Linked DNA regions of Homo sapiens: all the other regions are linked to region 1. Evidence: fine-mapped expression QTL. A gene starts in region 1. Each other region holds a variant in brackets. All regions are shown on one strand. Distances are from middle to middle. Region 1 holds the start of LINC00640 (long intergenic non-protein coding RNA 640). Region 2 overlaps LINC00640 (long intergenic non-protein coding RNA 640). Region 3 holds the start of LOC124900346 (small nucleolar RNA SNORA70).

What was found. PIP is the estimated chance that this variant, and not a neighbour inherited with it, causes the effect.
Region 2: its variant is fine-mapped to the expression of LINC00640 in unexposed skin (GTEx, PIP 0.94).
Region 3: its variant is fine-mapped to the expression of LINC00640 in whole blood (TOPMed, PIP 0.98).

Annotation. Positions count from the first base shown.
Region 1 is chr14:51,331,864-51,334,537 of GRCh38, reverse strand. It overlaps LINC00640 (long intergenic non-protein coding RNA 640), which reads right to left and starts at 1,145. Exons shown (of 5, transcript NR_038358.1): 1 at 974-1,145. LOC124900595 (a long non-coding RNA gene) reads left to right here. Exons shown (of 3, transcript XR_943854.3): 3 at 1,068-1,139.
Region 2 is chr14:51,362,722-51,365,395 of GRCh38, reverse strand. LINC00640 (long intergenic non-protein coding RNA 640) reads right to left here. Exons shown (of 5, transcript NR_038358.1): 5 at 1-33. Among named protein-coding and RNA genes, the nearest start is that of LINC00640, 31 kb to the right of the region's middle. The variant C/G (reference allele first, on the strand shown) is at 1,688.
Region 3 is chr14:51,242,507-51,245,180 of GRCh38, reverse strand. TMX1 (thioredoxin related transmembrane protein 1) reads right to left here. Exons shown (of 8, transcript NM_030755.5): 2 at 1,210-1,325. It overlaps LOC124900346 (small nucleolar RNA SNORA70), which reads right to left and starts at 1,091; the gene lies at 957-1,091. The variant T/A (reference allele first, on the strand shown) is at 1,348.

The sequences.
Region 1 (2,674 bases):
TGCAATGGGTGGGGCAAAGGCAAAGAAGGGGCCACCACCCCCAGAAAGGTCTATCCAGATTTTCCTCAGCCTCTTCTTTGGTTATACTCCAACTCTGATTACCAAATCTTTGAGACCCTCAGCCAACAGGCCACTTGGCCTTGAAGAGTCATTTTTATCTGCAGGGATCTCCCACCCACAGGCCTCCACTTGGCCTGCCCTCACTGGAGGAAACAAACACACCAGTGCTCTGTTAACCAGCTGCAGTGTTGGGCTTACAGGTTATTTTAACTCCACTATGAATCAGAACAGAATTATGAACAATTTACATGAGACTTGTCACATCTTGTTTCAGTCTTTCTTTGGCTCATAGTTTTCCTTGTTTGGCCTTTCAAATACTTATACGTCTGATTATTTTCAAGTCTGGAAGACTACATAGGTAGCATTACACAGATATGGCTTCTCATGGCTGACATCTCAGGAAGCTCTCAAATTCACAACCCCACATGTCAAAAGTAAGGAAACAGAGAAAGCTTCCAAAAAGGCAGGGCAGAGCTGGGTAGAGCATCTCAGCTGGCACCCAGGCTGAGTAATTCTTCTCTGTGTCTTAGCATGCCATATACAGAGGCCTGAGGCCAAATGGATTTCCACAACAACTTCTGCAGCCTAATTAAGACCCATCCTGTTTGCACACGGGAACTTTGTAGGGTAGACAACTGTTAATAAGAAAGAAATAAAGTATTTTTTTAGAAAAATACTCCTGCCCTAAAGCAGATGTTAAACAACCAGGCTCCCAAAAGAATCTTGTATAAATGATCCTCTAAGCATGAGTTAGAATCTCTACTTCAAATGAGAGAAATATTCTCTGGAGATTTCCCCTAACTGAGGCAATGAATGCTCCCATGAGCTTCCTGGGCACAAGAGATACCCCAGAACACTGGTATTTCTTCTAAGAAGGCAGAGTTCAAGTGCTCTGTAGAGTGATAAAACTTACCACGTTCTCTTCCTCCGATGCTTGATTCCACCCGGGGTTCACAATAAGTCTGTGCAATGTGTTTGTTGAAAAACTGGTTCTCACTTTCTTCCAGGTGTGCAGGGTTTCTGAGCCAGGAGCAGTTGAGGAGTGGGAAGAACATCTGGAAAGACTGGGAGTAAGGACGCCCCATCTGATGGAAGAAAGGAAACACATGCCCACCCATTTTTGCACCTGGGTCTTTCATTTGCCTTTACACTGGACTCTTGCAAGCCCTAAGCAGGACATTGCATCAAGCTAATGGGCTTGTGTTGAGGTCTCTTTCAACTCACCCCAAGCCTTGGGAGAGTCATATTTCTGACAACTAAATTCATGAAGTCTTCCTAAGCCTCTTTTAAATCATGATTCTCCCTTTGAAACAATAGGCACACACATTAAAGTCCAAATAGTCATTAACCTTTATCACCATTCACTAGGAGGTCAGAACAGAAGAGCACCATGTAGGAATGGACAGCCTTGTGGGTGTCGTGGATGCATGGTCCCATCTGGAACCCTGGGGCACAGATATCATGAGCAGAGGAGGCAGCAGGGCCAGGGGTGGATGCGAATTCTGCCTCTACCACTTCTAACCAGTACACCCTGGGCAGTGTACTTGACTGCTTTGTTCTTCAGTCTCCTCCTCTGTGAGGTTGAGATAATGGTAGCAACTAATTTAGGAGATTATTGTGAGAATTAAATGAGATTGTCTATGTCATAATAGGTATGCAATAAGTGCCTAATATATGTTGATTTTTTACTCTGTTTTCTAGAGAAGACAGATGTAGAATTTAGTCTTCATGATGGGTGGCTTCTGAAGATGTCAAAAGGGACAATGCCTCAGAGGCTGGCAGCCCCCTGACATGGTGAAATAGGCAGCCGTGTGGTCAGGCCAGGGCACAAGATTCACACACTCCCTCTCTCCCTCAGTAATGCTCAGGTTGTCTACAGGAAACATCCTATAGTCCTACATATCTTGTTCCCCACGTTGAACAAAGTGAGGAGAAAGACATAAAAGGATTTCTCTGCTCTTGCTCAGTTTTCATCTCATGAAAGAATAAGACTTGCCTCAAATTTCATGAGTGTACAGTCGAGTTCTTACCTGGCAGAACTAATCTTCTGGGGGAACAATAATAGGTCATGTTAATTAAGTACTCATTCTCCTAAGTATATTTTTTATTATCTCATTTTTTTCTCATAGCAACCCTCTAAAGAGGGTCTATTGTCATCCCCATCTTACAGAGGAAACTGAGCACAGAATGGTAACTTGCCCAAGGTCATCATTTAGCCAGAACTTAAACCCATTGGGTCAAACTCCAGCACCCACTATACAAAGCTGTCTCATCTCAACCAGCCCTCTCTCCTTCTGACTCACTTCGGTATTTCATTTTTTAATTGACATTTGCTAAGAAGGTCAAATGGATGACGAAGGATGTTGTTGAGCACTCATTTTAGCAAAGTTGTATCTAGCACTTAATCATGTGACCAATTGCTGTACTAAGACTAGGGGATAAAGGGAGGGGAGGACATGCAGTCCATGTCCCTAATGAACATTCCATCTCCTTGATTGGCGGGGGAGAGAGAGAAAGAGAGAGAGAGGCCACATGAAAGAAAAATAACAATGTAAGAAAGGGAGAGAGGAAGAGAGAGGAAGCAGAGATCTGGGAGAGTACAGAGGAGTGATGC
Region 2 (2,674 bases), 31 kb before region 1:
TTCCCTGGGGCTTCACAGTCCTGGCTGGATTCTCTGCATTCAGTGGCAGACAGAAAAGAAAAAGGGTATAGAATTGCATGAGATGATTTTTTTATGGGCCAGGCCTAGAAACTGGGCACATCATCTCCATCCACATTTCCTTTGCCAGAACTAAGCATTGGCCATATCTAACTGCAAAAAGGAACAAAAAAATGTATTCCAGCCATGTTTGGGGGTGAACAACCACCTTGCCATCCATATTCTCATTTTCATCCATCCCAGCATCTGATCACTTACCTCCTGACTCTCCAGTTCATACCACCCAGTGTCCCAACTCCAACAAGCCTTCAACCCACTGGGAACGACCATCCTCTTCTCTCACCACCTTCAACCCACTGGGAGCCCCATCACTGCTCCCACCACCTTCAACCCACTGGCAGCACCCATCCACTGATCCCACCACCTTTTGCTGACCCTCACTATCTTCCCTTTTCAGCTTCCTTTCATTACCTGGGCAATTATCATGATGGCCCCCTTGCATCTAATCTCTATTTCTTTGTCTCTCTGTAGCTTTCCCACTTGGCAACACCTCAACCCTGTTTAAATCTAGCAAACTGTGTCTGCACCCGAACAGCCAAACGTGGCTAGCGAAAAACTCATAACTACATGCACCAGTCCCACTTTATGTTTGTGATAGTGAACATCATGAGTGCTTGGTGCAGCCAGGCAACTGTGTTCATTTCCCTGGTCTATGGACTCTCCCACTCTCCTAGACATCCACATAATACCTTATCCACTCTCCTTAAGCCTCTGATATCTTCTCTCCAGTTCTTAGTTTCCTATTTCACAGGGAAAATTGAAGCCATCAGGAAAATCATTAGACTCATACCTGCCAGCATCATCACCCACATGTGCCGCCTCCCACCTGACACAATAGCTGGCCTGTCTGTGCACCCATCTAATGCCAACCTCCCACCTGCATATAGATCCCATCTCATCCCACCTACTCTAGGGCATTGCTCCAGCAGCTCTCCTTTCTCTCTGGCATCAACAATTCCTCTTCTCATTGTATTATTCTCATCTTCACACAAAAATGCTATTATCACTCTCACTTAAAAAATGAAAAACAAAAAAAAAACCCTCTTGACCCAGTTCCCTATGAACTACTGCCTGTTCCTCTCTTCTGTCTCCAGTTCCTCCCTTCCCTTCTCTGTTAACCCATCCAAGTGGGCTTTAACACCTCTACTCTTGTCAGGGTAACAAATGGCCTCCCCATTACTAAATCCAATGGTCACTTCTCAGTCCTCCTTTAACTCGACCCCTAGCAGCATTTGGTACTGGCCTCCTTGCTCTCTTCCTCACCATCCTCACCACACTTGCTGCCAGGACACCACATTGCCCTGAGTTTCCTTTCACCTCACCTGTAGTTCCTCATCACTCTACTTTGCTGATCCCTCCTTGTCCCCCAGACCTCTGGGGGTGCCGTAGAGCTTGGTCCTTGCACTTTTTCACTTCTCCATCTGCACCCCGCCTTCACCCATTTCATGTAGTCTCTGGCTTTTAACACCATCTGTACCCCAATGGTCCCTCGTATGCCCCCCCAGCCCAGATACCTCTCCCAACTCCAAATGCTCAGGTCCAACGCCTCCTGGATGTCTTCGCTTGGGGATCAAACTCAAGTCACCGAAAGCAAACTTTAATATTCTTC[C/G]CCAAACAGTTTCCACCCACAATCTTCCCATCTGGAAAATAACTCTATCCTTTCAGTTGCCCAGGAAAAAATGAAAAAGCAAACAAAAACCCCAAACCAAACCCAACAATAACAACAAAAGCCTTAGAGTCACTAATTCCACACTTTCTCTTATACCGCATGTCAACACATCAGGAAATCCTGCTGAATTTTTCTCCAAAATATATTCACATGTCTCCATGTCCACTGCCACCATCTTCGTTTAAGCCACTGGGGCTCTCCCTGGATTCCCACTAGAGCCTCTTCTCTTGCATCCTTCTCCCTTGCACCCTTGCCTTCCTATGATCTATTCTCAATGCTGCAGCTGGAGTGATCTGGTTATAATATGAATCCTATACCTCCTCTGCCCCTGACACCCCAGTAGCTTTCTATCACACTCAATGTAAAAGCCAGAGTCCCGAAATGACCTACAAGGTCATTTTCTCTTTGACCTCATTCCCTAGTCCTCAACTTCACTTCGCTGAGACCACTCTGGCCTCATTGCTGTTCCTCAGATACATCTTGTATACTTCATGGCCTTTGCACTGGCTAGTCCTTCTGCCTGTATGTGAGGCTCCCAGTATCCACATAGTAAAACTCCTGCTCCTTCTTCAGGCATCTCTCGATGAGTCTCCTTAACCATCTTACTTAAAATAGTTTTAAGTAACATTTTATCACATTCTAACACTTTATGATTTACTTCTTACTATGTTTACTTTTTTATGGCCTGTCTCTTCCCCTTAGAATGTAAGCTCCAATAGCATAGGGATTTTTATCTGTTTTTTTTTTCACTACGATATTCTAATACCTACAGCAGCGCTCAATAAACACATGTTGAATAAATGAATGAATTAAATCATACGTCAATAGTCCTTAGCCCAATGCTATGTACTCAGAAAGTACTCAATAAATTTTCATTACGCAAGAAAATTAAACCACTCTACAATCTTTATTTTAAAATGGTTATGT
Region 3 (2,674 bases), 89 kb after region 1:
ACATAATTTAAAAATGAATTATGTACTTAAAGCAACTTTAAAAAACACAATACTGCACATTATCTCAGTTAAAAAGTATGTAGAACTAGAGTACTGAATACATTTTTAAATAAAAACACTTCAACATTTATATCACTGTCAAAATTAAGACTACTAGTAATAAGAGCACCTTGTGCTCATGGGAGAGCACAAGGTAATAGGGTCTTAGATCTAAAATCCAATGGAATTGTACTTGACATTCAACAAACAAAGGCAGTTTATGGTGCTGCTAAAAATGGAAAATACTATGAATCTTTCATGAGACAGGCAAAAATAATAGCAGCTAACATTTATTGTTAGCCATGTGTCAAGCACTGATATTACAGAGAATTGACCTGTGCCTCAGTTTTCTTATCTGTGAAATGGGGACATTACATATTTCACGGGGTTGTATAAGGATTAAATAATAAACACAAGATATTTGGAAGAGTGCTATAATAGGCAAGCGCTCGATAAATATTACCTATTATTACCATTTGGGATGGGACAGCCAAGAATCCAAGGGTAGTGTGACTACCGAGAACGGTAAGATGAGATTGGTCTGTGGAAGGAACCTCCTTAAGGGCAGGACCTGCCACTTGTCCAGGGACCAAGTCAGGAGTGCACTTGACCTCACAACCACGAGGGCTTTATATTTAGAAGCCCACATCCTCAAATCATAGGTACTAAATTTAAAACTCAATTTCAGAGATTCAGGTCTTCTTTTGTCAGGGAACGTGACCTTGACTCCAGAAAAACACTCAACCACATGCTCCTTATTCTGAAGCCTGGTATGGATGCAAATGTGGCTTGGCCAATGTTCACCTGAACCACAGTGTCCTAGGACTTCTCAAAGGCATCTTACATACTAGTCTGGGGCCTGGGATGCAAAGAACAACAAATCAGAGGCAGTTATGTGGGCAAGAATAAAAAGAGGGTAATGTCTTCAAGAACCCTTAAAGCAACACATTCAAGAAATGAGGTGTATACACAACCAGGGAATCTCCATTTTGCAACCATTGCACACTGAGCCCCCAGCAGGGAGGTGGACAAGTCAGGTTAACTAGCTGCAGACTGTTAGGTTTTCAAAACCTAAAGAAAGGTAGAATTAAGACTATGCAATGTAGAAAAAAGGATAAATATATCAACCCAAACAGCAAAGAAACAAAACTAACCAAAGACTTACAGTACCTGGCTGCTCTGTGACATCTACTTTCGCAATATTAACCTCAAGATCTTCTCCCCATTCAGCAAAACTTTCCCATTCCGGTTGAAGATTTTGACAAGCAGGGCACCACGGGGCATAACTAAGAAATACAGATTTTTTTT[T/A]AAAAAAAGTTAAGCACTTTAGTATGACCATTTATCTTGGGATAAAAAATTTAAATGTATAATTTATGAAGAATATTTCATATGAAAACACTGAAGATGATAAGGTGGTTAATTTTATGCAGATGAAAAACTTTTAAGGGTAGATCTAACAATCCGGAAATCAAGAATGATGAACTGATGATGCTAATCAAATAAAATTCTGAGAATAAGACACAGGATTTTTTCACATGCAAAACAGCTCTTTAGAAAACTTTTGCATTTCTCTATTAACGGTGTGGCCACCAGAAAGCTCAAGACCAAAGTTAGAGCTTACCAATTTTAATAATTTATAATGCAGAGTCACAAATGCAAGGTGTTGGAAAAACAGAAGTGTCCTGGGCTGTGGTGAATAAGAAAGCACATATTCCATCTTAAAGTGGCAACCATTATTAAGTAGGATTGCCACTAAGGATGCTGGCACACTAAGGCTGGCTATTCATATTTAAAAGAAGATGGAGAGCTGCATTTTTATATGAGAATGTTACCTCAAAAAATAACCCACACACAAATACTAAGCAGGCCAAACAAAACTCTTGGCCAGTTAGGTCATCCTGTTTCCAAGACCTTGGATTTACAAATGCAAGCATATTAGCATTTAAATTACTCCTCTGGTATTATCTCCTGAGGATCTTATTTTTCCACTTTATTGTATTTTATCTTATAATACACCACAGGGTTGTTCTTTTTTTTTTTTTTTTTTTAACAGAACCAGGAAGAATAAAGCCTAAAGCAGTTAAACACAAAACTATACTTTCTGTACTTCACATTTTCTTCACTTGTTTTATGAAAACCAAACTCCTAAAATAGACATTGTAGAACAAGACAAACTGGTAGTATAAAAGCCAAGCTCCTAACAATAAATCGTATTACAATGAAAATATCTCCATGACAAAACTTCTGAGCAGAAATGGATTTACTGTAGATAATTCACTTGTAATTAGGAGCAGACTATTACTAAAACTACTAGAGTCCTTCTTTTTCAGGTTCGTTTTGTTGCTCAGTTGCTTTTTTATTTTTTGAAACAGGGTCTCGCTTTGTTACCCAGGCTGGAGGGCAGTGGCGCCATCTGGGCTCACTGCAACCTCAACCTCCCGGGCTCAAGACATCCTCCCACCTCAGCCCAAGTAGCTGGGACTACAGATGCCTGCCCACACGCCCAGCTAATTTTTCGTATTTTTTTGTAGAGACTGGTTTTTGCCATGTTGCCCAGGCTGTCAGTTGCTTTCTAAAAACTTACTTTAGAATCTCTACTTAAGGAAAAAGAAAAACTACTACTCTATAGCATAAT